Linked DNA regions of Homo sapiens. The protein of the gene in region 1 interacts with the protein of each later gene in a pairwise test. Each region holds a gene or a part of one and is shown on either strand. Other genes may lie near its edges. The genes, in order: SPINK7, MT1H, MT1G and RABL6.

What was found.
Region 2: the proteins of SPINK7 (region 1) and MT1H interact in binary tests that used the Homo sapiens proteins (3 or more experiments, as listed by UniProt).
Region 3: the proteins of SPINK7 (region 1) and MT1G interact in binary tests that used the Homo sapiens proteins (3 or more experiments, as listed by UniProt).
Region 4: the proteins of SPINK7 (region 1) and RABL6 interact in binary tests that used the Homo sapiens proteins (3 or more experiments, as listed by UniProt).

Annotation. Positions count from the first base shown.
Region 1 is NC_000005.10:148,307,838-148,315,444, reverse strand, and holds the start of SPINK7 (serine protease inhibitor Kazal-type 7 precursor), read right to left. Parts: upstream 3,023-7,607; 5' UTR 2,962-3,022; coding exon 2,901-2,961; intron 2,072-2,900; coding exon 2,046-2,071; intron 1,346-2,045; coding exon 1,221-1,345; intron 1-1,220. UniProt on the Homo sapiens protein: Probable serine protease inhibitor.
Region 2 is NC_000016.10:56,665,128-56,671,629, reverse strand, and holds MT1H (metallothionein-1H), read right to left. Parts: upstream 1,817-6,502; 5' UTR 1,746-1,816; coding exon 1,718-1,745; intron 1,125-1,717; coding exon 1,059-1,124; intron 733-1,058; coding exon 641-732; 3' UTR 501-640; downstream 1-500. Other genes in the region: MT1G (metallothionein-1G), read left to right, coding at 3,637-3,664, 4,250-4,318, 4,660-4,751. UniProt on the Homo sapiens protein: Metallothioneins have a high content of cysteine residues that bind various heavy metals; these proteins are transcriptionally regulated by both heavy metals and glucocorticoids.
Region 3 is NC_000016.10:56,666,230-56,672,658, forward strand, and holds MT1G (metallothionein-1G), read right to left. Parts: upstream 1,837-6,429; 5' UTR 1,765-1,836; coding exon 1,737-1,764; intron 1,152-1,736; coding exon 1,083-1,151; intron 742-1,082; coding exon 650-741; 3' UTR 501-649; downstream 1-500. Other genes in the region: MT1H (metallothionein-1H), read left to right, coding at 3,656-3,683, 4,277-4,342, 4,669-4,760. UniProt on the Homo sapiens protein: Metallothioneins have a high content of cysteine residues that bind various heavy metals; these proteins are transcriptionally regulated by both heavy metals and glucocorticoids.
Region 4 is NC_000009.12:136,803,194-136,810,988, reverse strand, and holds the start of RABL6 (rab-like protein 6), read right to left. Parts: upstream 3,042-7,795; 5' UTR 2,793-3,041; coding exon 2,663-2,792; intron 2,263-2,662; exon of another isoform or gene 2,141-2,262; intron 1-2,140. Other genes in the region: CCDC183 (coiled-coil domain-containing protein 183), read right to left, coding at 3,299-3,417, 3,923-4,019, 4,122-4,232, 4,317-4,485, 4,751-4,911, 5,532-5,632, 6,173-6,227, 6,362-6,487. UniProt on the Homo sapiens protein: May enhance cellular proliferation. May reduce growth inhibitory activity of CDKN2A.

The DNA.
Region 1 (7,607 bases):
TAATTCCACCCCTCTGCTGCCTCCTCTGATTCCAGAGCCCCACTGACCACCCAGTGTCTTAACACAACAAAGAAAGAGTACTCTGACAAAATTGAGAGGGCCTGTCTCTCAGCTTTTCCTGGTCAGCAAGTCCTTTGACGAAGCTGGATCCTGCATTAGTGAGGAGGACTTTCATCATGTTTCTCTCCAGTGTCCCTTGAAAACAGCTAGTTTCCTGGCCAAGGGCTAGTTTCCCAGTCTGCCTATGTTACAGAATTTTCCCTTTTGTGAAATAAAACCTCCCAAATAGGAATAAATACATAGACATGTCCTTTTGGGCTAAGGGCTTGTTGTTCTCACTTGTTAAGATAATCACAAAGATGAAAACGCAAGATCTAAGTGTCCAAAATCCAGTGGCCTAAAAGAGTTAACGATGATCACAGCAGACTTGCTATGAGACAGTTAAGTGTAATTTGCATGTCTTGTACCAAAGAAGTGACATCTGCCTAGCTACATTTCTGCAAAAACATTTTGTGGGCCAAAGAAAATACCTAAACAAAACATGTCCGTGGTATTCTGGTCCAAATACTGACAGCTTGCATCCCTTATTTTAGATAAAGGAAAAGTAATCATTTTTGTAGCCTTATTCCCCCCTTAAAGCTACAGATACTTAGAGCCTCTAGAAATTCGAAGATAAAGAACCTCTAGGGACACTTTGTCTAAGAATCAAGCTGCAGTGAGGATGTTAATTATCTTAGAATCTAAGTCAGGTAGTGTAGTAGTTTTCAATTATTTTATGGGGGGTGGGGATTCAGGGCCCTTTCTTCAAGCATGATATTGTATGGCACTCCACTACTTAAAATAGTCAAAGCTGAACTTTATGTTGTCAACTACCCCAAATAGTCCCTTTAACCCTAATGGTGACTCCTGACTTGCCTCTATAGAACCTCTGTGCTCTGGGGACAGCAGTTTGAGAATCCACAGCCTTACTGGATTCTCACAATTGACAGACAGGAACTGGAGGTTCTGTGATGGGATGGGACTAGTCCAAGCTGGCAGAGCAGGTGACTCTACCCTGTCTGATTGTGCAACAGTCAGTTTTCTATCCCCACCTGCTGTTCTGGGTGGGAATAATTATAAATTACAGCTTATAGAGATTTAAGCTGGATCCTGGAAAGTAGAAGCGTTTGTAGTAGAGAGCACTGACTCCAGATCTCATTTTCTTCTTATGAGGTACTCACAAGCTCTCGGTACACAAGTGACATTCATTCCCATAGGTGATGTAGTCAGAACCACAAACTGGTAGGTATGTGATGGGGCAGGGGATGGCCACCACTGGATACTTCTTGTAAATGCTGCAGTCCACCTGTGTCATATACAAGCAAATGTCCTGTTTTTCTCCCAGACCCCAAGCTAGGCCACTATTAGATATACTACAAGGGCTGGAAGTCCCAGCTCAGATATTCAGATGTTGCTTGGCCACTTCTTTAAGTACTAGTGTTATCACTATGACAAATACTAGCACTACTGGTATTCTATTTTTTTCTGCTACACTCAGTTAACAATTGCTGGGCATTTCTGGGCTAGGCGTTAAACTTAAATCTTGCATGAATTTTCTTGTTTAATCTTCAGAACAACTAGAGTAAATTCTACTATTACCTCTCTTTACAAATGTGAAAATTAAAGCTTAGAAATAGAGATAACTTGTTGAAGATAAATGCTGGTAAGTAGTAGAGTTAGGATTTGAATCTAGAGCCTGTGCAATTTATCAGGGTACTTTTGCTCTGCCTTTTACACGTTATGCCTTTTATGAAAACATCACCAACTTCTCAGCTGGAAGGCGGTTCTCCCTTCTTTAACTCTGGCATTTTTAAAAAACATTTTTAAAATATGGTTGTTTATATGTATGTCATATTTGTTTAGTTGCCTTCTGGAGAACAGGTACCATTTCTCCATGTGTGTTTGCCTCCCTCTCGAATCCCCCTAAACATAATTTATCCTACATATATGTTGACTAAATGACAGTCAATAGTTATTGACATTAAAATGTTATTCAACATACTTACTTTTTTTGGAGACAGACTAGCAGCTTCTGAAAAAGAGATACAGATGAAGATGTTAAAAGTAAAGCAAACTTTAAATCTCATTAATTAATATAAGTTTCATCCTATATAATTACTCTACATTTCCTTTAGCAATGAGATTCAGCACACTCTCCATCCTTATGCAAAATCCTAGTTGTTTGCTGAGGAAGTTGAATGGCCAATGGGTTAGGTTAACCCTTGGTTTAGGTAAGAGAATTATAAAAATTTCCTCTATTTATTGATCATGGAATGTTTTCTGAACCTCATAGTGTTTTTGATAATGGCCAAAGTCAAGTAGCAATAAGAAGTATTAAAATCATCACTCCTAAGAGCCTGAAGGATCATCTCTGATATCCTTTCCTTCCCAATTGACATAAAGAAATGCAATTGAATGTCTTTATGTGGTTGGAAACACTTTAATTAATTTTTCACAGTATAAAAGTCTAATTGTTGACCCTTGGCTTTTTGAGACTTGTGTTTTATTTTAATCCCCCCAAACTGATTTGGGAAGACATCCAAGTTTTTCTGTATCTTTGCACTAAGAAATGGTATATCTAATAACACTGACAACTTCCAGTGTCCATATGAACATAGAAATGGAAGACTTACAGAGAAATTAGATCATTTTTTGTTCTATGGATGCAAATAAGAATCCTTGAAAGTGAAGACATTGGACTCAAGTCTCTCAAACTCCAGATGGAACATAAGATCCTATTACAAACCAGTACACTTTAAATTCTTACAACCAGATGTTTCTGAGATGCTCACATCGCAGGAGGGATTATTTATGAAAACAATCTTAATGGCTATATAGGGCACTGTCTGACCTTAACTTACCTGAGCTGCTACAGAAATAGACCACTGTACAGAGCAGAAGGAGACCCCCAGTGATCTTCATGCTGGAAATGGCTGTGGTGTAGAAGCTGCTCTGAGATTGTCACTACAGCTGCATCGACCATATCCCAGGTAAGGGGTCATGTTTATATATATGCAAGGCTTGGTTTCTCCGCCTTTCCTGTGAGGTCATCCAGAGGATCTCAAAGCACGGTGCCACACCCTGGGCTGTGTTACAGTCCTTGTTACTGAACTGCCACTTCTTATCTGACCAATGATTTGATTATTTGAGGTAAGAAGTATTTTCTATCTTCCCCAAAGGTGGGACTGTTAAGAATTCTAAACTTCATGAACTAGAAGAGACTAAGTATGAGCTTCTTGACTTAGTTATGAAATAAGTGAAAATCTCAAACCTCCTTTATTTTACGAAACTGGAATCTATTAAACCCCGATTAGACTGATTACACCTACGTTTATATCTTGGCACCTGGGGAAATATTGTTTATTTTTGAGGCAATGAACCAATGAAGCAAACTGGGACCTAATGGAAGGAACACTGACATTAGCATTTATGAGGTATGGAGAAAAGCACTAACATAATACTTCTGATATTTTCTACCTGTATAATCTTGGATAAGTCGTTATATGCTGTGAGCCTTTATCAATCCAAAAGGCTTGGTTATGTCGTGATAACATGTAACCACAAGATTTCTGTGAATTAAAACAAAACTTTGTTTCTTACTCAAGCTACACTTGTATGGTAGTCAGCTGTTCATGCTACATTGCCTTCACTGTGGATGCCAAGTGGGCAGAGTCATCACTATTTGGAACACTGTAGTCAAGGTGAAGTGAAGTTGAGTTCGTTCTCAAGGAGTTCTCATTTTAGCAATTAAAACTTCCAGCCCAGAGCAATACTGCTGTCACTTCCCCTCATGGTCTCGTGGCCATCACATGCTTTGTTATGTATGGAGTGAGTGCAATCAATCTGATGTGGTTTAGCTGTGTCTCCACCCAAATCCCATCTTGAATTGTAGCTCCCATAATTCCCATATGTTGTGGGAGGGACCTGGTGGGAGATAATTGAATCATGGAGGCAGTTTCCCCCATACTGTTCTCATGGAAGTGAATAAGTCTCACAAGATCTGATGGTTTTATAAGGGGTTTCCCCTTGCACTTGGCTCTCATTCTCTCTTGCCTGCTGCCATGTAAGACATGCCATTCACTTTCTGCCATGATTGTGAGGCCTCTTCAGCCATGTGGAACTGTGAGCCCATTAAACTTCTTTTTCTTTATAAATTACCCAATCTTGGGTATGTCTTTATCAGCAGCTTGAAAACAGATTAATACACAGTCTTACCTTGTCCTGACCTGTTCCCTGACCTGAAGGTTGGATGAAGAACTAGAATAGTTGGCAAACAACAGAGACCATCCCAGAGACTGAGTTTCATCCCAGTCCAATAGGGCCTGTTGTTAGCCACAATAGAGTTCACATAATTGGAATCATATACATAAAAGTCTGCTCTAAAGCACAGTGCATTTAATAATATTATTGTGATTGTTATTATTATTTACAAACCAAGAGTTAATGCTATGAGTTGCTGACATTAGATTGTAAACTGTATTGTCCATGCACAACTGTCCAAATAGCTGCAGTTTGCTTATTGAGTTTAAGGACATATGTATGAAGACCTGGGGGAAGGCAGTAGACTGTCCCACTAGTTTACTGCTTGGCAGGTTTATTTTAGTACATTCTAAAACTAGCATCTACAAGACATATTAAGTGACTAATAAATGATATTGCATAATCTCTAATATTTTACTCCTATATCTGTTTGGGAGGCAATGTAATCTAGTAGTTAAGAGCATGGGCATTGAGTAGATCCCATTTAGAATCTTTCTTCTAAAAAATGTTGACTGTGTGTCTTTTAGTATTTAGGTTAACATCTGATACTTTAGTGTCTTCATCCTTATGACAGAAATAATATTTACCTCATAGGTTGTTTTGAGTGTTAAATTAGATTTTACAGACACACACTCTCTCACACACACACATTATACATTCAACTCTTGAACAACATGGCGTCCGGGGTGCTGACACCACCACAGTTGAAAAATTAACATACAATTTTTTTATTTTTCAATAATTTAACTATTAATATCCTTAATATCCTACTGTTGACCTTATTAATAACATAAACAGTTAATCTACACGTTTTGTATGTTACATGTATTATACACTGTATTCCTACAACAAAGTAAGCTAGAAAAAAGAAAATGTTATTAAGAAAATTGTAAGGAAGATAAAATATATTTACATTAATTAAGTGGAAATGGATCATCATAAAAGTTTTCATCTTTGTTGTCCTCATCTTGAGTAGACTAAGGAGAAGAAGAAAGAGGAAAAGTTGATTTTACTGTCTCAGGAGTGGCAGAGGTAGAAGAAAATCTATGTATAAGTCAACATGTGCAGTTCAGACCAATTTTATTCAAGGGTCAACTGTGCATATAATCTCTTATGGATGCATGTCTGTGAGGTGTCTGTGTGGTATGCTTGTGTGGTTTGTATGTATTTGTGTATTAGGGCACCAAGCTCATAATTAGATCTTGATATATGGTAGCTAATAATATGGAATGTGCTCTTTATAACAACTCATTAAGGAAGGAGTTTTTGTTACCCTAGTTTTGCCAGTGAGTAAGTTAAGACTCAGAGGATTTAAGTAATCTCCCAAGGATCATGATACAATTAATGGAGGAAACTGCTGAGTTCAGTCAAGGAAAAGAAGCAAAGTGAAGGTTCCAATAAGGAGAGGTAATTGTAGGTTTCATTGTTTGCCATGAATGTTTGAAAAGAATGAATCCTAAGAAAAAGCCATTGTGTTTCAAGATGAGGTATCTTTATTGCAGTTTGAAAATGTGCTTTTATCAAAGAGGAGTGGGAATAGGGTCAAAGGGTGGTCAAAATGGTGGTAAAAGATAGGATCACAGATTTTTTTTTAAATTTTTGATAGTCAAAGGAGGAATGGAAGAAGCTGAGGCTACAGAAAGATCTAGGATAGACTGAGCATGTCTTAAAACCAAAGAGAAGAAGAAATTTTACATACATGGTAGAGAGTGGCTAATTAGATGCATGTAGAAAGATAGAAAATAAGGTTAAGAGCACAGATGAAAAACCATTTTCTCTGACACATGAGAGAGAGAAGAGTGGATAAATGTAGAGACAGGCATATTTTGAAGGGTAAGGAAGGAGAGATGGGGGAAGCCCACTGTAAGGTAGGCTCTAGTTGTTCAGTGCTGGTTTGCTTTTTTGCACTGGGAGAACTGGGTTCGTTTGGGAGCTTGAGACAGATGATAGAAGACTTGGCAGCATGTCAGATAGTCAGCAATGGATCTAAAGATTAATGGCCACTGGACAAGTTAGAACTAGATTTTAGAAGGCCCAATTAGTACTATTCCTCGTATTTCTCCCAAAGTTTGTGCGACACAGAGTGAGAAATGGGGAACAGTGATTTTATAGATAGGGAATGGATACATCAGAGGCTTGAAGATACCATAAAGACTGCATTAGGAGGTGGCAAAGCTTGAAAGAGAGTTAAATGTTCCAGAAGTTTCTGATGGGCTACACAAGGTACAGGCATTTAAGTGTTTAGAGATCAAGGTTTAGGCAAAATGTGGTAGGTATAGGAAATAAGAACAATTGTTTATTGAGACAGGGCTAGGAATCAAGTTGTCGGATACTATTTCTCAGGGGTGGGGCTGAGATAATGATCCTCAGGGTGTATCCAGTGGGTGGAGATAAACGTCTCTCGATTGAAAAGGATGAGGAAAGGTGAGGTCAAGGGATCAGGAGAGGGGTTGGTTTGGGTTTTGGAAGCCATTTACATAGAGAGGAAATTTTCCAGCCAGATACTGAGGCACAAATTATGGAGGAGGCTTTTAAAATGAGAGTCAAAGCCTGTGAAGATAAAAGCAGTCCATTTCAGGATAGTTTTTTCATTTATCCTTATAGTTCTCCAAGGAGAAAATCTTGAGGCCTTGTAAGAGAGAATAACTATGGTCCTGGTTTCATCATGAAGAAGGCAGAATAAAATTAGCTCTTTTCCCATTTAGAAAAAAAAAGTGCAGCTTGCTGCCGGCATTCATTTATTTTTACATAAACATGCTCTTTGAGGCTGAAGTAAATCTAATTTTCAATGTGAAAATAAAATACAAAAACTGTTCTTGGAGTTATTTCTAAACAGAACTTATCTCTAATCCTAATGTAACAGAAATGTAAATGATGATCAGTATTTAGTAGTTTTTTTTTAATTTGGTAAATTTCAAAGCACAGAACAACACAAAGCAGAACATCATATTATACACAAAAATATTCCGTTTCTCTCCAGATCTTGCTATGCTTGTCATTGTGTAAGCAGCAAACTTGCAGTGACCAGTTGGATTCCACCCCCCTGATGTTGGTGGTGTGCTCTTGGGGAGATGTCTTCCAGACAGGCAAAGAAGAGTGACATCATCAGAGCATGGACGACCTCAAAGATATTCCAGCTATGGTCTGTGATATTTTTCCAGCATTCTTTCAATCGATGTCAGTCTGAAGTTTACATGGCTAATTGTGTGCTCAGGATTGTCCTTCTTGAACAGGATGTAGGAGTCCAGCACTGTAATTTTTAGAAGGTAGTGAAATAATTTCTTATACCAAACATTTGATCTCAGTTG
Region 2 (6,502 bases), on another chromosome or scaffold:
GTAAAATGTAAAACATGGGTTCTATATTTTGTGCTTCATTATCTTCATAATTAATATTACTTTATTTACAAAGGTTTAGGTCTGGGATGGATAGAAAATGAAAACTGTCCCTTCACCGTGGAGTTTGAGAAGCCCCATGGAGGATTCAAGTAATTTAGGCATTGGAATCCACCTCCTGTGGCCAATTTCAAGCCTAAAATCTGCTGAGGAACTGAACTTGGGCAGGGAAACCTGAGAATAAACATGAGGAATGGAGAAGTCTCTGTACCACATTTAATATGAGTGGAGCTGATCGCGTATGTCCCCATCCCCATATGAGCCAGGACAGTGCAGGTGCCTTTTACAGAAGATGGAGGTCAGTGATGTAATGGGGCTCACCTGAAGGCGCTCAGACTGTTCAGCACTCACATTTCCATCCAGAGCCCAGTCTTTAAACTCCCAGTTCAATCTCCCACCCCAGTCCCTCATTCCAAAAAACACAACAGGAACCAGAACGGGAATCAAGTCTAAGTGTTTAATTATTATTCACATATTTCACAGAAAAAAAGGAATGTAGCAAATGAGTCGGAGTTGTAGAAAAAAAAAATCCTGGATTTTACGTGTCATTCTGTTTTCATCTGACAGCAGGGCTGTCCCGACATCAGGCACAGCAGCTGCACTTCTCTGACGCCCCTTTGCAGATGCAGCCCTGGGCACACTTGGCACAGCCCAGGGGGCAACAGGAGCAGCAGCCTGGGGAAAAAGGGAGAGAGAAGTCACAGCAGACTTGACCAGGGAGCTCCCTCTCCCAACAGCAGGCCTGGCTCAAGCTCAGACTCCAGCCCCAGAGGATCCTTAGTTCAGGATGGCACAGCTTTTTCAGGAGACGACTGGTGGATATTGGGGTGAGTCTTCCTATGAGAGACTGCCCAGCCCCACAGGAGCCCTGGACAGAGCAGAAGACTGGAAAGGCAGTGACGGCCTAGGGGGACAAAGGAAGCAGGCACTCAGGGCCAGCCTTGGGTTCCCTCCCAACCTTAGCCACAGCCCCAGATTCCTGGAGATGGCCCCGCACTCACTCTTCTTGCAGGAGGTGCATTTGCACTTTTTGCACTTGCAGGAGCCGGCGCAGGCGCAGGAGCCACCTGCAAGGAATAGAAAAAGCCAGTGTGTTGTGAGTGAGATGCAGAAGTTACAGCAGTGGGTCAATGAGTGTCCACTTCCCCCTTCTCTGTTCAGGGCCAGCCGTCAGAGCTCCTTTCCCACTCAGCAGAAGAAGAGAAGACCCATCTCCTCTCCATTCATGCTGGGAAAACCAAGCACCCTCCGTTTGTATTCCAAAGGTAAGTCCCAGGCTCCAGGCACAGCCCGGGAAGACTGCGACTTCGACTTTCTGTGCTGAACCCTGAAGAGGCAATGTCCCCACCTATCCAATGCCTCCCATCCAATCCGGCTGCTCAGAGCCTGGTTAGAGAATTGGGGCTCAGCCAGCAGCCTCGTGACCAACGGGGTGATGTGGAGCAGGACAGCCTTGAGCCTTAGGACCCTCAACTCTGACATAGAGGCACAGGGAAGAGGGACATGCTCTCAGGAGCTTGGCCAAGAGGAAAGCAGCGGAGGAAGTAAAGAAGTCCTCTTCAGCTCAGATCGCAAAATATGACCTCCTCAAACCCAGGGACACTCTCTATGGTGTCTGGGAATTTGGCATCCTAAGGCACAGAACCCGGGCGTTCCTTACCAGCCTCGCAGGAGCAGTTGGGGTCCATTGCAAGCCGAGGTGAGACTGGAGTTCCCAAGCGAGAAGAGAAGAGGCAGTGGAACACGTGGAGGGCGTGGTGGAGCGCAACAGTTGGCAGCTCCTTTTCTAGTCAGGGGAGGGAGCCGGGTGCAGAGACCCTGCCCCACCCTTGCACCCGACCCACTGAGTCCGAGCCGCCCGCGGTCCTGGGCTGGGCTGTGCGCAGCAGACGGGTCGGGCGCAAAGTACCCTGAGCGCAGGTCGGTGCACACCGCGGGGACGGCCCTTTCGCAGCGGCTCCCGCGGGAGGGGCTGTGCACCCGGGTGAGCTGCTTGTTTCACCCTGCCGGGCCTGCCCAGTTCCCTGAGATTACCTGCTACTCCCGCCCTTTGGCGTTCCGCGTGCCCCGAGATCCTGACCTGCGCCCCACACCCCGGGGCCTGCCCACCCCCTGTCAACAGCTAAGGCTTTCCTGGAGTCCCAGTGCAACCCCAGTCTCTTGTTCAATTGTCTGGATTGGTGGGAGCAGAGAGCACAGCGAGGGAGTAGTGTGCAAGGGACATGCCGAGGATGCGACCTTCAGATCTCTGGCATTGCCTGTTCCTGTCCCCGTCCCCACCTCAGTTCTTCGGCCACGTTTCTCCTGTGCACAGCAACACGGAAGACACAGGACCCTGCCTCCCTCCCATCAAAGTATACTTATTCATATCCCTCTATGTCTCTGTTTTGCTTCCAGGACTGACTGTAATGCTTGGTTTTGTTGAAAGATTTCAAGCAGTGAAGAGATAAACATACCTAGGCCATAGAGAAGCTTCATCACTGACCTCTCTACCTAGGGAAGCTGACAGGATTCACACCAAGCAGTGCCACTTCCCAGCTCCCTGACCCTGGGCTAGTGGCTTGAACTCCTCGTCATTGTCCAGATTAGGAATACGGGTTCGTGAAAAGGACTCATGTCCCTTTAGGGTTGCTGTGAGGGTTCAAAGACAGAAAGTGATTAAACAGGGCCAAACACAGACCCGTGTAACATAGAGTAATAGGAATATGGAAGGAAAAATAACCAGCGCTCTTGCTTTCTAATTTAATGCAGGATCTTCATATCACCTTCAATGATCCCTCTTCTAGGGACTTGCCACACTTTCCAAACTGCCATCCTGTAGTGGGGTACCCGGCTAGGCTGTGGGGAGACCCTGGAGAGATTTATGCAAAGGAGGACCTGGACAAATGGGCCCATTCAGCTCCTCAAGAGTGGAGAATAGAAGAGAGAGGCAGATCACTGTTTCTTCCGTGTTACTGAGCACAGGAGAAGCGTGACCAAAGGACTGAGGTGGGAACGGGGACAGGGCGGATACTGCCAGAGATGCGAAGTTCGCACCCTTGGCCTGCCCTTTGCACACTACTCCCTTGCTATGCTCCCCGCTTTGGCAGATCCAGAAAGTGGAGCACAAGACTGGGGTTGCCCTCGACTCCAGGAAAGGCTTAGCTATTGACTAGAGACCTGGGCGTTGGTGAAGGTGAGGGGAAAGCCAGAATACTGGGGTAGGCGGAACGCCAAGGGGCGGGTGTAGCAGGCAACCTCAGGGAAGCTGGGAAGGCCTGGCAGGGTGAGAGAAGCCGCACACGGGGGGCACAGCGCCTCCCTCGCGAGCCGGTGCGAAAGGGGCCGTCCTGCGGTGTGCGCCCAGCTGCGCTCAAGGGACCTTGCACTTGGCCCATCTCCTGCGCACAGCCCAGGCCGGGACCGCGGGCGGTGCGGACTCAGCGGGCTGGGTGCAAGGGCGGGGCGGGGCGTCTGCGCCCGGCCCCGTCTCCTGACTATAAAAACAGCCGCTGGCTGTTGGGCTCCACTCCGCCTTCCACGTGCACCCACTGCCTCTTCCCTTCTCGCTTGGGAACTCTAGTCTCGCCTCGGGTTGCAATGGACCCCAACTGCTCCTGTGCCGCTGGTAAGGGACGCCCGGGTTCTGTGCCTTGGGATGCCAAATTCCCAGACACCATAGAGAGTGTCCCTGGGTTTGAGGAGGTCGTATTTTGCTATCAGAGGTAAAGGGGACTCCTTTATTGGTCCAGTGCTTTCCTGTTGGCCAAGCTCCTGAGGGCATTTTCCTCCTCCCTGTTCCTCTATGTCAGAGTTGAGGGTCCTGAGGCTCAAGGCTGTCCTGCTCCACGTCACCTGGTTGGTCACAGGGCTGCTGGCTGAGCCCCAATTCTCTAACCTGACTCTGAGCTACCGGATTGGATAGGAGACATTGGATAGGAGGGGACATTGCCTCTTCCAGGTTCAGGACAGAAAGTCGAAGTCTTCCTGGGCCATGTCTGCAGCCTGGGACTTTCCTTTGGAGTAGAAATAGGAGGGTGCTTGGTTTTCCCAGCATGAATGGAGAGGACATGGGGCTTCTCTTCCTCTGCTCTGAGTGGGAAAGGAGCTCTGAGGGCTGGCTCTGCACAGAGAAGGGGGAAGTGGACACTCATTGACCCACTGCTGTACCTTCTGCATCTCACTCACCGTTCACTGGCTTTTTCTCTTCTAGCAGGTGTCTCCTGCACCTGCGCCAGCTCCTGCAAGTGCAAAGAGTGCAAATGCACCTCCTGCAAGAAGAGTGAGTGCGGGGCCATCTCCAGGAATCTGGGGCTGTGGCTAAGGTTGGGAGGGAACCCAAGGCTGTCCCTGAGTGCGTGCTTCTGGGGAACCGGCCTTCCTTTGTCCCTGTAGGTTGTCACTGCCTGTCTAGTCTTCTGCACTTTCCAGGGCTTATGTGAGGTGGGGCAGCTTTCTCAAAGGAAGACCCATTCCAATGTCCACCAGTTGTCTCCTGACAAAAACCATGCCATCATGAACTAAGGGTCCTCTGGGGCTGGAGGGATGGAGACAGGCCTCTGTTGGGGCAGGGAGTTCTCTGATCGAGTCTGCTCTGACCTCTCAATCTCCTTTCCTCCCCAGGCTGCTGCTCCTGCTGCCCTGTGGGCTGTGCCAAGTGTGCCCAGGGCTGCATCTGCAAAGGGGCATCGGAGAAGTGCAGCTGCTGCGCCTGATGTCGGGACAGCCCTGCTCCCAAGTACAAATAGAGTGACCCGTAAAATCCAGGATTTTTTGTTTTTTGCTACAATCTTGACCCCTTTGCTACATTCCTTTTTTTCTGTGAAATATGTGAATAATAATTAAACACTTAGACTTGATTCCCGTTCTGGTTCCTGTTGTGTTTTTGGAATGAGGGACTGGGGTGGGAGATTGAACTGGGAGTTTAGACTGGGCTCTGGATGGAAATGTGAGTGCTGAACAGTCTGAGCGCCTTCAGGCAAGCCCCGTTACATCACTGACCTCCATCTTCTGTAAAAGGCACCTGCACTGTGCTGGATGATATGGGGATGGGGACATACGCGATCAGCTCCACTCATTAAACGTGGTACAGAGACTTCTCCATTCCTCATGTTTATTCTCAGGTTTCCCTGCCCAAGTTCAGATCCTCCGCGGATTTTAGGCTTGAAAGTGACCACAGGAGGTGGATTCCAATGCCTAAATTACTTGAATCCTCCACGGGGCTTCTCAAACTCCACGGTGAAGGGACAGTTTTCATTTTCTATCCATCCCAGACCTAAACCTTTGTAAATAAAGTAATATTAACTATGAAGATAATGAAACACAAAATACAGAACCCATGTTTTACATTTTACACAAAAAAATCAATAAATACATACAGAAATAACAGAAAAATGGAAGGTTTACAAACTCTGCACATATGTTCATGGATGAGTTGCATTGGAGACTGGAAACAGCAGACTGACCCCACTGTGGACCACACCTTCAGCAGCACAGGCCAGGACATTCTCATGAGGAACCATCAGGCTTGGCCTAGCCGGCGTCACAGACAGACAGCACACTCAGGACACTCGCTGAATCCTGAGAGCTCCCTGTTGGGAGTTGGCTCAGAATCTTTGGAAGTTCCTCCCAAGGTCAGGCTTCATTTGTTCCTCTTTCAAACTCCAGCCCTTGACTACTTCAAACCAGCATATTCCCGCCAAGATGTAGTGTGATCGTGGGTTGCAGATGAACTTAGTTTGGAATTTTGATTGTGATTTCATCATCTCCATAATTAATATTACTTTGTTTACAGAAGTTCTCAGAACACAGCTATGGCAGATTGTGCAGCTGGCTGAGTGTGGTGATGTTCCTTAGGAAAGAAAGAGTCCCTGGATGTCTTGTTAATGACAAGTTAGTCCCTCCACTTGTGGAGGGAATGCTATTTGATGTTCAGTCAAAGAGGAAGATGAATCTCCTTGTGTAGAAGTCAGGACCACACTTACCTGTTGCTTCCTTGTGAAATGATTTCAGAAGGCAGCCTGCCCCTAGGGCATAGTTTTAGGTGTCAGGGAGTCTTATTTCACAGCCCACTCCACCACTTACTGGCTGTGTGGTTTGGGCAAGTCACCCACACTCTCTGAGCATCTAGTGCCTCATTTGTAGAAAGGAGATTATATCTCAATGCAGGGATTAAATGAGAGTGTGGGCCGGGCATAGTGGCTCATGCCTGTAATACCTGCACTTTGGGAGGCAGAAGTAGGGAGACTGTTTGAGCCCAGGAGTTTGAGACCAGCCCGGGCAACATGGAGAAACCCCGTCTCTACAAAAAATACAAAAATTATATGGCTCTGGTGGCCTGTGTCTGTCTGAGCTACTCTGGAGGCTGAGATGGGAAGATTGCTTAAGTCCAGGATATAGAGGCTGCAGTCAGCCAAGATTGTGCCACTGCACTCCAGGCTATGCAACAGAATGAGACTCTGTCTCA
Region 3 (6,429 bases), on another chromosome or scaffold:
ATTTTTTTGTGTAAAATGTAAAACATGGGTTCTGTATTTTGTGTTTCATTATCTTCATAGTTAATATTACTTTATTTACAAAGGTTTAGGTCTGGGATGGATAGAAAATGAAAACTGTCCCTTCACCGTGGAGTTTGAGAAGCCCCGTGGAGGATTCAAGTAATTTAGGCATTGGAATCCACCTCCTGTGGTCACTTTCAAGCCTAAAATCCGCGGAGGATCTGAACTTGGGCAGGGAAACCTGAGAATAAACATGAGGAATGGAGAAGTCTCTGTACCACGTTTAATGAGTGGAGCTGATCGCGTATGTCCCCATCCCCATATCATCCAGCACAGTGCAGGTGCCTTTTACAGAAGATGGAGGTCAGTGATGTAACGGGGCTTGCCTGAAGGCGCTCAGACTGTTCAGCACTCACATTTCCATCCAGAGCCCAGTCTAAACTCCCAGTTCAATCTCCCACCCCAGTCCCTCATTCCAAAAACACAACAGGAACCAGAACGGGAATCAAGTCTAAGTGTTTAATTATTATTCACATATTTCACAGAAAAAAAGGAATGTAGCAAAGGGGTCAAGATTGTAGCAAAAAACAAAAAATCCTGGATTTTACGGGTCACTCTATTTGTACTTGGGAGCAGGGCTGTCCCGACATCAGGCGCAGCAGCTGCACTTCTCCGATGCCCCTTTGCAGATGCAGCCCTGGGCACACTTGGCACAGCCCACAGGGCAGCAGGAGCAGCAGCCTGGGGAGGAAAGGAGATTGAGAGGTCAGAGCAGACTCGATCAGAGAACTCCCTGCCCCAACAGAGGCCTGTCTCCATCCCTCCAGCCCCAGAGGACCCTTAGTTCATGATGGCATGGTTTTTGTCAGGAGACAACTGGTGGACATTGGAATGGGTCTTCCTTTGAGAAAGCTGCCCCACCTCACATAAGCCCTGGAAAGTGCAGAAGACTAGACAGGCAGTGACAACCTACAGGGACAAAGGAAGGCCGGTTCCCCAGAAGCACGCACTCAGGGACAGCCTTGGGTTCCCTCCCAACCTTAGCCACAGCCCCAGATTCCTGGAGATGGCCCCGCACTCACTCTTCTTGCAGGAGGTGCATTTGCACTCTTTGCACTTGCAGGAGCTGGCGCAGGTGCAGGAGACACCTGCTAGAAGAGAAAAAGCCAGTGAACGGTGAGTGAGATGCAGAAGGTACAGCAGTGGGTCAATGAGTGTCCACTTCCCCCTTCTCTGTGCAGAGCCAGCCCTCAGAGCTCCTTTCCCACTCAGAGCAGAGGAAGAGAAGCCCCATGTCCTCTCCATTCATGCTGGGAAAACCAAGCACCCTCCTATTTCTACTCCAAAGGAAAGTCCCAGGCTGCAGACATGGCCCAGGAAGACTTCGACTTTCTGTCCTGAACCTGGAAGAGGCAATGTCCCCTCCTATCCAATGTCTCCTATCCAATCCGGTAGCTCAGAGTCAGGTTAGAGAATTGGGGCTCAGCCAGCAGCCCTGTGACCAACCAGGTGACGTGGAGCAGGACAGCCTTGAGCCTCAGGACCCTCAACTCTGACATAGAGGAACAGGGAGGAGGAAAATGCCCTCAGGAGCTTGGCCAACAGGAAAGCACTGGACCAATAAAGGAGTCCCCTTTACCTCTGATAGCAAAATACGACCTCCTCAAACCCAGGGACACTCTCTATGGTGTCTGGGAATTTGGCATCCCAAGGCACAGAACCCGGGCGTCCCTTACCAGCGGCACAGGAGCAGTTGGGGTCCATTGCAACCCGAGGCGAGACTAGAGTTCCCAAGCGAGAAGGGAAGAGGCAGTGGGTGCACGTGGAAGGCGGAGTGGAGCCCAACAGCCAGCGGCTGTTTTTATAGTCAGGAGACGGGGCCGGGCGCAGACGCCCCGCCCCGCCCTTGCACCCAGCCCGCTGAGTCCGCACCGCCCGCGGTCCCGGCCTGGGCTGTGCGCAGGAGATGGGCCAAGTGCAAGGTCCCTTGAGCGCAGCTGGGCGCACACCGCAGGACGGCCCCTTTCGCACCGGCTCGCGAGGGAGGCGCTGTGCCCCCCGTGTGCGGCTTCTCTCACCCTGCCAGGCCTTCCCAGCTTCCCTGAGGTTGCCTGCTACACCCGCCCCTTGGCGTTCCGCCTACCCCAGTATTCTGGCTTTCCCCTCACCTTCACCAACGCCCAGGTCTCTAGTCAATAGCTAAGCCTTTCCTGGAGTCGAGGGCAACCCCAGTCTTGTGCTCCACTTTCTGGATCTGCCAAAGCGGGGAGCATAGCAAGGGAGTAGTGTGCAAAGGGCAGGCCAAGGGTGCGAACTTCGCATCTCTGGCAGTATCCGCCCTGTCCCCGTTCCCACCTCAGTCCTTTGGTCACGCTTCTCCTGTGCTCAGTAACACGGAAGAAACAGTGATCTGCCTCTCTCTTCTATTCTCCACTCTTGAGGAGCTGAATGGGCCCATTTGTCCAGGTCCTCCTTTGCATAAATCTCTCCAGGGTCTCCCCACAGCCTAGCCGGGTACCCCACTACAGGATGGCAGTTTGGAAAGTGTGGCAAGTCCCTAGAAGAGGGATCATTGAAGGTGATATGAAGATCCTGCATTAAATTAGAAAGCAAGAGCGCTGGTTATTTTTCCTTCCATATTCCTATTACTCTATGTTACACGGGTCTGTGTTTGGCCCTGTTTAATCACTTTCTGTCTTTGAACCCTCACAGCAACCCTAAAGGGACATGAGTCCTTTTCACGAACCCGTATTCCTAATCTGGACAATGACGAGGAGTTCAAGCCACTAGCCCAGGGTCAGGGAGCTGGGAAGTGGCACTGCTTGGTGTGAATCCTGTCAGCTTCCCTAGGTAGAGAGGTCAGTGATGAAGCTTCTCTATGGCCTAGGTATGTTTATCTCTTCACTGCTTGAAATCTTTCAACAAAACCAAGCATTACAGTCAGTCCTGGAAGCAAAACAGAGACATAGAGGGATATGAATAAGTATACTTTGATGGGAGGGAGGCAGGGTCCTGTGTCTTCCGTGTTGCTGTGCACAGGAGAAACGTGGCCGAAGAACTGAGGTGGGGACGGGGACAGGAACAGGCAATGCCAGAGATCTGAAGGTCGCATCCTCGGCATGTCCCTTGCACACTACTCCCTCGCTGTGCTCTCTGCTCCCACCAATCCAGACAATTGAACAAGAGACTGGGGTTGCACTGGGACTCCAGGAAAGCCTTAGCTGTTGACAGGGGGTGGGCAGGCCCCGGGGTGTGGGGCGCAGGTCAGGATCTCGGGGCACGCGGAACGCCAAAGGGCGGGAGTAGCAGGTAATCTCAGGGAACTGGGCAGGCCCGGCAGGGTGAAACAAGCAGCTCACCCGGGTGCACAGCCCCTCCCGCGGGAGCCGCTGCGAAAGGGCCGTCCCCGCGGTGTGCACCGACCTGCGCTCAGGGTACTTTGCGCCCGACCCGTCTGCTGCGCACAGCCCAGCCCAGGACCGCGGGCGGCTCGGACTCAGTGGGTCGGGTGCAAGGGTGGGGCAGGGTCTCTGCACCCGGCTCCCTCCCCTGACTAGAAAAGGAGCTGCCAACTGTTGCGCTCCACCACGCCCTCCACGTGTTCCACTGCCTCTTCTCTTCTCGCTTGGGAACTCCAGTCTCACCTCGGCTTGCAATGGACCCCAACTGCTCCTGCGAGGCTGGTAAGGAACGCCCGGGTTCTGTGCCTTAGGATGCCAAATTCCCAGACACCATAGAGAGTGTCCCTGGGTTTGAGGAGGTCATATTTTGCGATCTGAGCTGAAGAGGACTTCTTTACTTCCTCCGCTGCTTTCCTCTTGGCCAAGCTCCTGAGAGCATGTCCCTCTTCCCTGTGCCTCTATGTCAGAGTTGAGGGTCCTAAGGCTCAAGGCTGTCCTGCTCCACATCACCCCGTTGGTCACGAGGCTGCTGGCTGAGCCCCAATTCTCTAACCAGGCTCTGAGCAGCCGGATTGGATGGGAGGCATTGGATAGGTGGGGACATTGCCTCTTCAGGGTTCAGCACAGAAAGTCGAAGTCGCAGTCTTCCCGGGCTGTGCCTGGAGCCTGGGACTTACCTTTGGAATACAAACGGAGGGTGCTTGGTTTTCCCAGCATGAATGGAGAGGAGATGGGTCTTCTCTTCTTCTGCTGAGTGGGAAAGGAGCTCTGACGGCTGGCCCTGAACAGAGAAGGGGGAAGTGGACACTCATTGACCCACTGCTGTAACTTCTGCATCTCACTCACAACACACTGGCTTTTTCTATTCCTTGCAGGTGGCTCCTGCGCCTGCGCCGGCTCCTGCAAGTGCAAAAAGTGCAAATGCACCTCCTGCAAGAAGAGTGAGTGCGGGGCCATCTCCAGGAATCTGGGGCTGTGGCTAAGGTTGGGAGGGAACCCAAGGCTGGCCCTGAGTGCCTGCTTCCTTTGTCCCCCTAGGCCGTCACTGCCTTTCCAGTCTTCTGCTCTGTCCAGGGCTCCTGTGGGGCTGGGCAGTCTCTCATAGGAAGACTCACCCCAATATCCACCAGTCGTCTCCTGAAAAAGCTGTGCCATCCTGAACTAAGGATCCTCTGGGGCTGGAGTCTGAGCTTGAGCCAGGCCTGCTGTTGGGAGAGGGAGCTCCCTGGTCAAGTCTGCTGTGACTTCTCTCTCCCTTTTTCCCCAGGCTGCTGCTCCTGTTGCCCCCTGGGCTGTGCCAAGTGTGCCCAGGGCTGCATCTGCAAAGGGGCGTCAGAGAAGTGCAGCTGCTGTGCCTGATGTCGGGACAGCCCTGCTGTCAGATGAAAACAGAATGACACGTAAAATCCAGGATTTTTTTTTTCTACAACTCCGACTCATTTGCTACATTCCTTTTTTTCTGTGAAATATGTGAATAATAATTAAACACTTAGACTTGATTCCCGTTCTGGTTCCTGTTGTGTTTTTTGGAATGAGGGACTGGGGTGGGAGATTGAACTGGGAGTTTAAAGACTGGGCTCTGGATGGAAATGTGAGTGCTGAACAGTCTGAGCGCCTTCAGGTGAGCCCCATTACATCACTGACCTCCATCTTCTGTAAAAGGCACCTGCACTGTCCTGGCTCATATGGGGATGGGGACATACGCGATCAGCTCCACTCATATTAAATGTGGTACAGAGACTTCTCCATTCCTCATGTTTATTCTCAGGTTTCCCTGCCCAAGTTCAGTTCCTCAGCAGATTTTAGGCTTGAAATTGGCCACAGGAGGTGGATTCCAATGCCTAAATTACTTGAATCCTCCATGGGGCTTCTCAAACTCCACGGTGAAGGGACAGTTTTCATTTTCTATCCATCCCAGACCTAAACCTTTGTAAATAAAGTAATATTAATTATGAAGATAATGAAGCACAAAATATAGAACCCATGTTTTACATTTTACACAAAAAAATCAATAAATACATACAGAAATAACAGAAAAATGGAAGATTTACAAACTCTGCACATATGTTCATGGATGAGTTGCATTGGAGACTGGAAACAGCAGACTGACCCCACTGTGGACCACACACCTTCAGCAGCACAGGCCAGGACATTCTCATGAGGAACCATCAGGCTTGGCCTAGCCAGCATCACACACAAGACAGCACACTCAGGACACTCGCTGAACCCTGAGAGCTCCCTGTTGGGAGTTGGCTCAGAATCTTTGGAAGTTCCTCCCAAGGTCAGGCTTCATTTGTTCCTCTTTCAAGCTCCAGCCCTTGACTACTTCAAACCAGCATGCTCCTGGCAAGAGGCAATGTGATCGTGGGTTGCAGATGAAGTTATTTTGGAATTTTGATTGTGATTTCATCATTTCCATAATTACTAATACTTTATTTACACAAGTTCTCAGAATACAGCTATGGCAGATTGTGCAGCTGGCTGAGTGTGGTGATGTTCCTTAGGAAGGAAAGAGTCCCTGGATGTCTTGTTAATGACAAGTTAGTCCCTCCATTTCTGGAGGGAATGCTATTTGATGTTCAGTCAAAGAGGAAGATGAATCTCCTTGTGTAGAAGTCAGGACCACGCTTACCTGCTGCTTCCCTGTGAAGCAATTTCAGAAGGCAGCCAGCGCCTAGGGTGTAGTTTTAGTTGTCAGGCAGTCCTAGTTCACAGCCCACTCCACCACTTACTGGCTGTGTGGTTTGGGCAAGTCACCCACACTCTCTGAGCATCTAGTGCCTCATTTGTAGAAAGGAGATTATATCTCAATGCAGGGATTAAATGAGAGAGTGGGCCAGGCACAGTGGCTCATGCCTGTAATACCTGCACTTTGGGAGGCAGAGGTGGGAAGGTTGTTTGAGCCTAGGAGTTTGAGACTAGCCTGGGCAACACGGAGAAACCCCATCTCTACAAAAATTACAAAAATTAGACGATGTGATGCCATGCACCTGTGGTCCTAGCTGCTCTGGAGGCTGAGAAGGGAGGA
Region 4 (7,795 bases), on another chromosome or scaffold:
CAAATGCAGGGCCCAGGAGGAGAGCCCAGACTCCTGGAAACCCGCAGCAGTTCCCAGAAACTCTCACCCCCAAAACCCTCGACTCTGTCTTGATCACATTGCTGGTCTGTTACGCTCTGTAAAATATTTGAGAAAATAAATACCAGAAAGCCGGGCATGGTGGCTTACGCCTGTAATCCCAGCACTTTGAGAGGCTGAGGCGGGCAGATCACGAGGTCAGGAGATTGAGACCATCCTGGCTAACACGGTGAAATCCTGCCTCTACTAAAAATACAAAAAATTAGCCGGGCGTGGTGGCCGGTGCCTATAGTCCCAGCTACTCGGGAGGCTGAAGCAGGAGAATGGTGTGAACCCGGGAGGAGGAGCTTGCAGTGAGCTGAGATCACGCCACTGCACTCCAGCCTGGGAGACACAGCAAAACGCAAAACTCTGTCTCAAAAAAGAAAAGAAAAGAAAAGAAATACTAGAAACTTTCTATTCTAACACAGAAACTCAAAAGTTTTAAAATTGCATGTTATTCAGCTATAAAGATAACATCTTTCTAAAATGTAATTTAGGTACAAATTCAAATTTCTCTCTGTCTCACCACCTTTCATTCAGTTCTAGGAGATCATAACCTGTTCTCCAAGTACTGGAGACTGGCTTTTCTCCTCTGGAAGGACCCCATTGCCCTTTTTAGTCACACTCGCCCAGGACCACACAGGGGTGGTCCTGGTGCATGAGGTGGACCTTGCCCAGGACCCTCGGGGAGCCTTTTCAGAAGGTGAACAGTTTCCAGGTCCAGGCCTGATTTCCCAGGGACTAATACTGAGCTTAGCCAATACTGTAAGCAATAAAATTAAATAAAGGATCCAAACGCAGAGTCTAAAAACTGGCGTAAACTCAGTTATTTTGACTCAATATTCTCTTCTCCGAATGCCAGCTATGTATAAAGTTTCAATTATAACACATTTAAAATCAGCTTTTATTTTTATTCAAAATGCACCACTTTATTTTCCTTACCAGACAGCCAAGCATTAAGCACGTTCCAGTCACGTGACTTCTTCAGCGAGCCCCCAGGCTTCCACTCCACGGGAGTCTGGGAGCTCCTGGACAGAGGAGTCCTGAGATTTCAAATAGTCAAGCCTTCTCCCCAGCCACAAGTTCCTTTGATGCTTGGGTTACTGAACACAAACGCAATGGATTGTTTGTCTTCAACATAATCCGTTTCTGTTCCTAAACGTGTTGGCTGCGCTTTCTTTCTGATGAGCACGCTGACTCTAATTTGAACTTCATCAAAATCTTCTTTGTCGTCGTATGTTCTAGAGTATAAGAAAAGCCAATACGGCCCTTGGTTCGGACATCAACTTTCTTTTAAATTTTTTTTTCGTATTTTTAGTAGAGACGGTGTTTCACTATGTTGGCCAGGCTGGTCTCGAATTCCTGACCTCGTGATCTGCCCGCCTTGGCCTCCCAAAGTGCTGGGATTACAGGCATGAGCCACCGTGCCCGGCCCGGACACCAACTTTCATACCTAGATGCTCAGACTTATCTTTAAGAAGTTGTTTTATCTTGCTTACTGCTAAAGGTGTCTGGGTGAGGGTGGCCCGAGTGGTCTGCAGCTTCCTCTTGCTCACAGGCCGGGGGACTAAGGAAGGCGACATCTTCACTGTCCTCCTGGACTAGCTCCAGCCCCAGGAACTACGGCCTCTCTCCGTGCACACGGCACGCGAATTCATGAACTTGCTTTTAAACCTGCACAAGAGTCTTTCTGATCATTAGTTCTTAAAATTCTACATTACCATGGAAATATCACGGAGGCTCTAAGGCTCCCCTTAAAGTGACCAAAAAACTGGATAGGCGTAGCGTCCTAAAACCTCATAGAAACATACGGAAATGGCTAAGAGGGAAGCAATGTCAAAACAGGGAACCACATAAAAGCTTTCAAAAACTACTGGGAAAGAGCCCGCAAGATGGAAAAACTCATAAGAGGTCGAGGACAATTTACACAATTTATAACAAAGGAATGGAGCGTCCCAGGCACTCAGGAGTCCGTAAATGACTCCTCCTTCCTACGAGAAATGGGATGTCTCCTACAGTCGCAAGTCAGCCCGTGCCTTCTGGAGCTTTTCTAGATACGTCTCTTACAAACGCTTCTTTTAAAAAAAAAGGCGAGAATGTGTGGCGTAGCTAATATTCTGTCTTCAAACTCAGTAGGAAGTCAACAAAGAAAAATCCCGCTGAAAGCGCCAAGGCCGGCTGGGTTCCCCGCACCTCCTGCAGGTGAGTGGTGCCCGGGGCTGGGCACCGTGGAGCGTCGGGGGCGCGGCGCCCCGGGCCGGCGGGCCCTGCTTGGCATTATGTAATCACCCCCGGGCCGGGCAGCCGGGCCAACCCCGCCGCCGCCGACCCGCTCCACTGCACAGCGCGGCGGGAGCGACACGCGGCAGGCGAGTGCGGCTGGGAAACGACCCGCGGCTCGGGGGCCGCGAGGACCCGGCCCTGGCCTGGCCTCTCCTCGCGTCCCCTGGCCCGCGCCCCCGCTCCCGGAGCGCCCGGCGGGCCCAGCGCACCCCACAACCGGCAAGCAGGTGAGACCGACACCCACCACCGCGCGGCGCCCGGGGCCTGGGTTCGGAGACCCGCGCGGCGCTCCCGCGCCCCCCCGGCCCGCCGCACTCACTGTTGTACTGCACCCCCTTGGCGAAGCGCCTCTGCAACGCCTGGTTCATGGACTGCAGCCCGGCGGGGATGTTCTTGTCCCGGCCCGGGGCCTGGTCCGACCCCACCAGCTTCTTCAGGGCGGAAAACATCTTCCCGCTCGGACGTCCCAGCCCGGGCGCGGCCGGCGAGCTCAGCGGCGGCGGGGAAGGGGTGCGACTGGCACCATGTCCCGGCGGCCCCGGCCCCCCCGGAGGCCGGAGCCGGCGCGGCCAGAGGCCGGGGTCCCGGCGGCGGAGCGCAGCCCCGAGCGGCGACTCGGGAACCTCAGCCGCGGCTGCTCCGCTCCGGCCCCCGCGGCCTCCGGCGCGACCGCTCTCCAGGAGTCAGCGCCGCCATCTTGGCGCCGGCTCGGCGGGACGGGAGGGGTGCGCGGCTACGGGGCGCCGCGAGGGCCGCGGGGGCGCGGCGCGCGCGGTCGGCGCATGCGCACGCGGTTCTGGCGCGCAGTTCCGGGCCCGGGCTGCCTCCTTACGCAGAACCTCCCCCGATCCTGCGTGTCCCGTGCTCCTCTCCGAGACCCCGGTCGCCCCAGCGTCCGCAGCAGTCCTGGAAAAATGTTTATTTGTGTAGCAAAGCAGGGAGCGGGGCGGCGGGGCTACTTCTTCTTTTTCTTGGCCGCCTTGAGCTTCCCCTCGATTAGCCGCTGCGCCTGCCTCTTGATCTCGGCGCGCGAAGGGACGTAGCTGTGGTCCATGTCGGGGAACTGGAAGGTGTCTGCGGGCGGAGGCGGCGGCTCGCACACGGGGCTAGCCCAGCTAGGCGCAGCCGCCCGACCCGCCTCTCGCCCCCGCCCTCCACCGACCCGGGCCAGGTGCCTTGCCCCAGGGACAGCCCCAGCGTGCCGGGAGGACTCAGCCCAGCCCATTCGCAGCGGCTCACGCTGCCCTGCCTAGCCTTTCCCGCAGAACCCCCAGTGGAAGCTCCGGCCCAGGCCTTCACCGCGCTCCTCCCTGCTCCAGCCCTGGTGCCTCTCCTCCGGGCCCGTCTGGCATGGCATGCCTCCTCCTTTCGGAGAAATTAACAAGGTATTTCAGTGGCTTTAGCCTCCCCATGGCATCACTAAGTCACCTCCATCAATTAAAGTCCTGCAGGTACAACTGATGCACCCTGTAGCCCCGCTGTCCCTCCAGGATGTCCCGGTGGGATGGGAGCCGGCGCCACCCCGACCTGTGTTCCAGCCACCCGCCTGCAGCCCGGGCCCCAGTTCCGGGGCCTGTACCGATCATATCCTCCTCCCGGTTCTCAAAGCTGATCCTGGTGTTGTACTTCTCCATCAGAGTCGAGGACTCCAGGGTGTCCCTCACCTTTGTGTCGCCCTGCAGGGCAAAGCCCCCTTCAGCCGTGCAGACACTCTGAACGGGAGCCTGTCAGCTTTGAGGGGACGTGGGCTGTGCAGGTTCCTCCCAGCCCGGGGCTACCTCCTCGGTCCTGGACACCATCTGCACTCTGTCAGCCAGGTACGTGAGCTTCCCCTCGCAGTACGCCAGCTTGCTGTTCAAATCGAGGGTGTTGGAGAGCACCACTTCTCTCTGTAGGCCGGGAGGAGGGTCTCATCTCCCCTCTGGCCCTGCCCAGGGACCTGGTGTGTGGCAGCTCAGCCTCACTCCCGGTACCTGGGTCGCAGGCAAGTTAATGCCCATCAGCCGGACATAGAGGTTGTCGATGCCCATCTGGATGGTCAGCAGCAGCTCCTGGCCCTTGGTCATGTTGCTGTGCGCCAGCTGGAGCCTCTCTTCTTCCTCTTTTAGCATGTCTGTCATTTTCTTCTCAACGGACTTGAAGCTGCAGAAGGCAATAGGGACACAGCAGTGAGGGGCACAGGCCCGAGAGCCATGGTGGGCCACCCAGGAGCCCAGTCCTGAGTTGGGTGCTGTGCCAGAATCAGGGACTCAGAAGCTCAGGTGTGTGCAAGTGGAGTCCCCTGGCCCCTCTGTGGGACACACAGGCTTGTTGGCAGTGGGTATACTCCCAGCTCCCAGCCTGGCTGCAGCCCGGGGCCTTTGTGAGACTGGGGTGGGTGGCCCGCAGCCCCGGAAGCCCGGGGCACCTGATGGAGCTAGGCTTCTGGCGGAACTTGAGCACGGCCTCCTCCAGCTCCAGCTGCTTCACCAGGGCCTTCAGCTGCACCCGCCACTCCTCACAGTCCTCCATCTGCAGCTCCAGGTTCTCCTCCGTGTTCCTCTGGGCCAGGAAGCGGCTAGTGATGTCCTGGCCAGTCCGGGGGAGAGAGAAGCAGGTGTGGGCCAGGATGGTGGGCAGAGGGGGCTTCACAGAACTGGTTTCTTCTGGGCCCCTCCTAGACGCTAGTGCACTTTCTCTGTGCTCATTCACAAGTGTGATCACAGCTCACTGCAGCCTCAACCTCCCAGACTCAAGCGATCCTCCCACCTCAGCTTCCTGAGTAGCTGGGACCACAGGTGTGCACCACCACACTTAGCAGGGGTGAAGCGCTTTGTGGATGTCATTGCACACGACCCTAATGGCAGGCAGAGAGGGTAGATAACCCCATGTAGAGATAAGGAGATCATCACTGAAGGACGTTGTGTCACTTGAGTCACTTGTCTGACAGTGGACAAGCTTGTGTCAGGGCAGTGGTTAGGAGCTCAAGGCCTAATAATAATAAACGCAGATACACAGATGGGATTAAGATAAAAGGATTTGGGGCGGCCGAGGGAGTTGCCACTTTGTGTGTCCATTTCAGAGTGCCTCAGACCCCAGCCCAGCTCAGCCACCCTCCTGCCATGCTCCGGGAGTGCCAGGGAGCATTACCCAGACGTGAGAGGCTCAGCCACCCTCCTGCCATTCTCTGGGAGCGCCAGGGGCATTACCCAGACGTGAGAGCACCGTACAGCACTCTTGACCTTCTCCACCACAGCAGTCACGCCCGACTGGTATTCCATTTCTGCTGTGGAGGTCTCTTTTCTCCTCACTGGCAGAGCAGAGGGGAGGGGCAGTCAGCATGCAGGGATGGCTCAGGGGCTCTGTGTAAGGCTGTCAGACACCTCTGTACCTGCCCAGCTGCTGGGGCGGCCACCCAAGACACAGGCATCCTTCAGAGATGCCTGCCCCCGCCCCAACCTGCTCCCTCCTCAGCCCAGCCCTGCAGGGACGCCCCAGGCAGCCCCAGAGCAGAGGTGGACCCGGAGTGAGTGGCGCAGCACTGTGAGCACTGTGGGCCCGGTGGTGCTTCTCAGAGGCAGCTTAGGGGTCAGGATGCTCATCCTCTGCAGAGTCACTGGGGACTGGGCCCTTGGTGCAGGGCCCTTGGGTGCTGGGGCCAGCATCTCTGAGGCCACATTTGGCTACAGGCTCTCAGCCTCTGGAGGGAGAGGCAGGGACCTGTCCTTCCCTTCACCCTGGCGACCACATGTCACACCTGGCCTCAGGGTGACTTGATCCGTTGGCCTGAATCAGTGCCAGCCTCTCCTTGGGACCCTGGCTGGGGGCAGGTGGGGAGCTGAGCGCTTACATTTCAGGGTCTCCGTGCTCATCAGGTTCGAGGGGAAGTCCAAGTCCATCTGGCCCTGATGGGAGGTGGGGGCGGGGAAGGGATGAGACATCCTTGGCAGGGAGTGGGCCCTGAGTGGTGGCCCTGAGCCTGTGTCCACCCAGCTGTCATGGGGATGGGCAGCCAGCCAGGCCCTGGCCTGGGGCTTACCCGGCGGTACTTCTCGCTGGTCTCCTTCGTGTGGATCTTGTCGATCAGCTTCTTCTGCTGGTTGAGCCGGTTCTCCCTTGCCCGGCGCTCCTCGATGAAGGACGCCTCCCTTTGCCTCATGTTCCTCTGGGGACATGCGGGTGGGCACAGGGTTGGGGAGCTGTCTCAACAAGGCCCCTAATGGCAGTAAAGCCAGCGGGCGGTTGGCCATGCTCACCTTACTAGACTTTGGAACTGCATCCCCGGCCAATGGCCACACCCTTTTCCTAAACCACTTGTGCCCGTGGCCCCTCAGCTCACGGCCCTCCTTGCCCATGCCTCAGAGCATGTGCCAGCCCAGACGCTCTGCTGCCCTCCAGCCGCTGGCCCCCAGCTGCCTCCTGGCCAGGTCCACCTAGAACTCACGGAAGTGCATTCAGCCTGCCTGAAGACAGATTCATCCTCTTCCCCAAAACCTGGCCTCTTCCAGCGTGCCCTTGGGCAGCTAAAACCGTCATCTGCTAACCCCTGCTCACGCACCCCAGACACTGCTCTCACCCTCGCCACTCTCGTTGCCAGCGCTTAGTGGGGTTGCCTCTTGAGGAGTTCTCAGCTCCGTTGCTCCTGGCCACCCCTTCTCCACCCCGGGTATACCCAGGTGATCAGCGCTTCTGCCCTGGCACCTTCCAGTCCCTGCAGCCTGAGTACACCCTTTCTGAAGCACAGACCTGGTCACATCTTTCCTCCACCTCCTCCCAGGGCTCCAGGTCAGTCCTTGGGCCCCCAGCCCAGCCGCCTCCGTGGACTCCTGGGGCCTGTGCCTCTGCAGCCTCCACTGCCCTGGCCACACGCTGCTCCATGTATCACACCCCTCCCAGCCCAGGGCCTTTTCCCAAGTTGTACCTCCTCCTCCCTAGCCCTGGCCACACCTGACCTTTGCGGGTTCAATCCCTCAGCCCAGCTCAAGCACTGTCTTCCTGGAAAGCCATCTGCCACCCCACCTGTCTCTGCTGAGCTGGCTCAGGGGCTGTGTGGCATTTCTTCATGGACTACTGGATGAGTGCCACCCACTTCAGGAGGACAGGGTCTGCCTGTCCCGGTCCCTGCTGTATCCCCAGAGCCTTGCAGGGACCTTGGCACAGACTGGGTGAATAGGTGACCCCCGCCCTGGCCCGGCCAGTTCTCTCCCTCTCCTCTACTTCATGGCTCCTGTGCTGGATGGGACCTGCTCTGTCCAGTGGGTGAGCAGAGCAGGCTGGCCGGGCTGGCCACTGGATCCTTCTGGGGATTGTAGGCAGTGTGGGCATGGGGGTCTCCTGAGAGACCCTGGCCAGAAGACACAAGAGAGCCCGCCCTGGGGGGCCCCAGCCCTGGGCCCTGAGCTCACCTTGACCCCATCCGAAGATCCAAGAGGGCTGGCCCTGGGGGGCCCCCAGCCCTGGGCCCTGAGCTCAC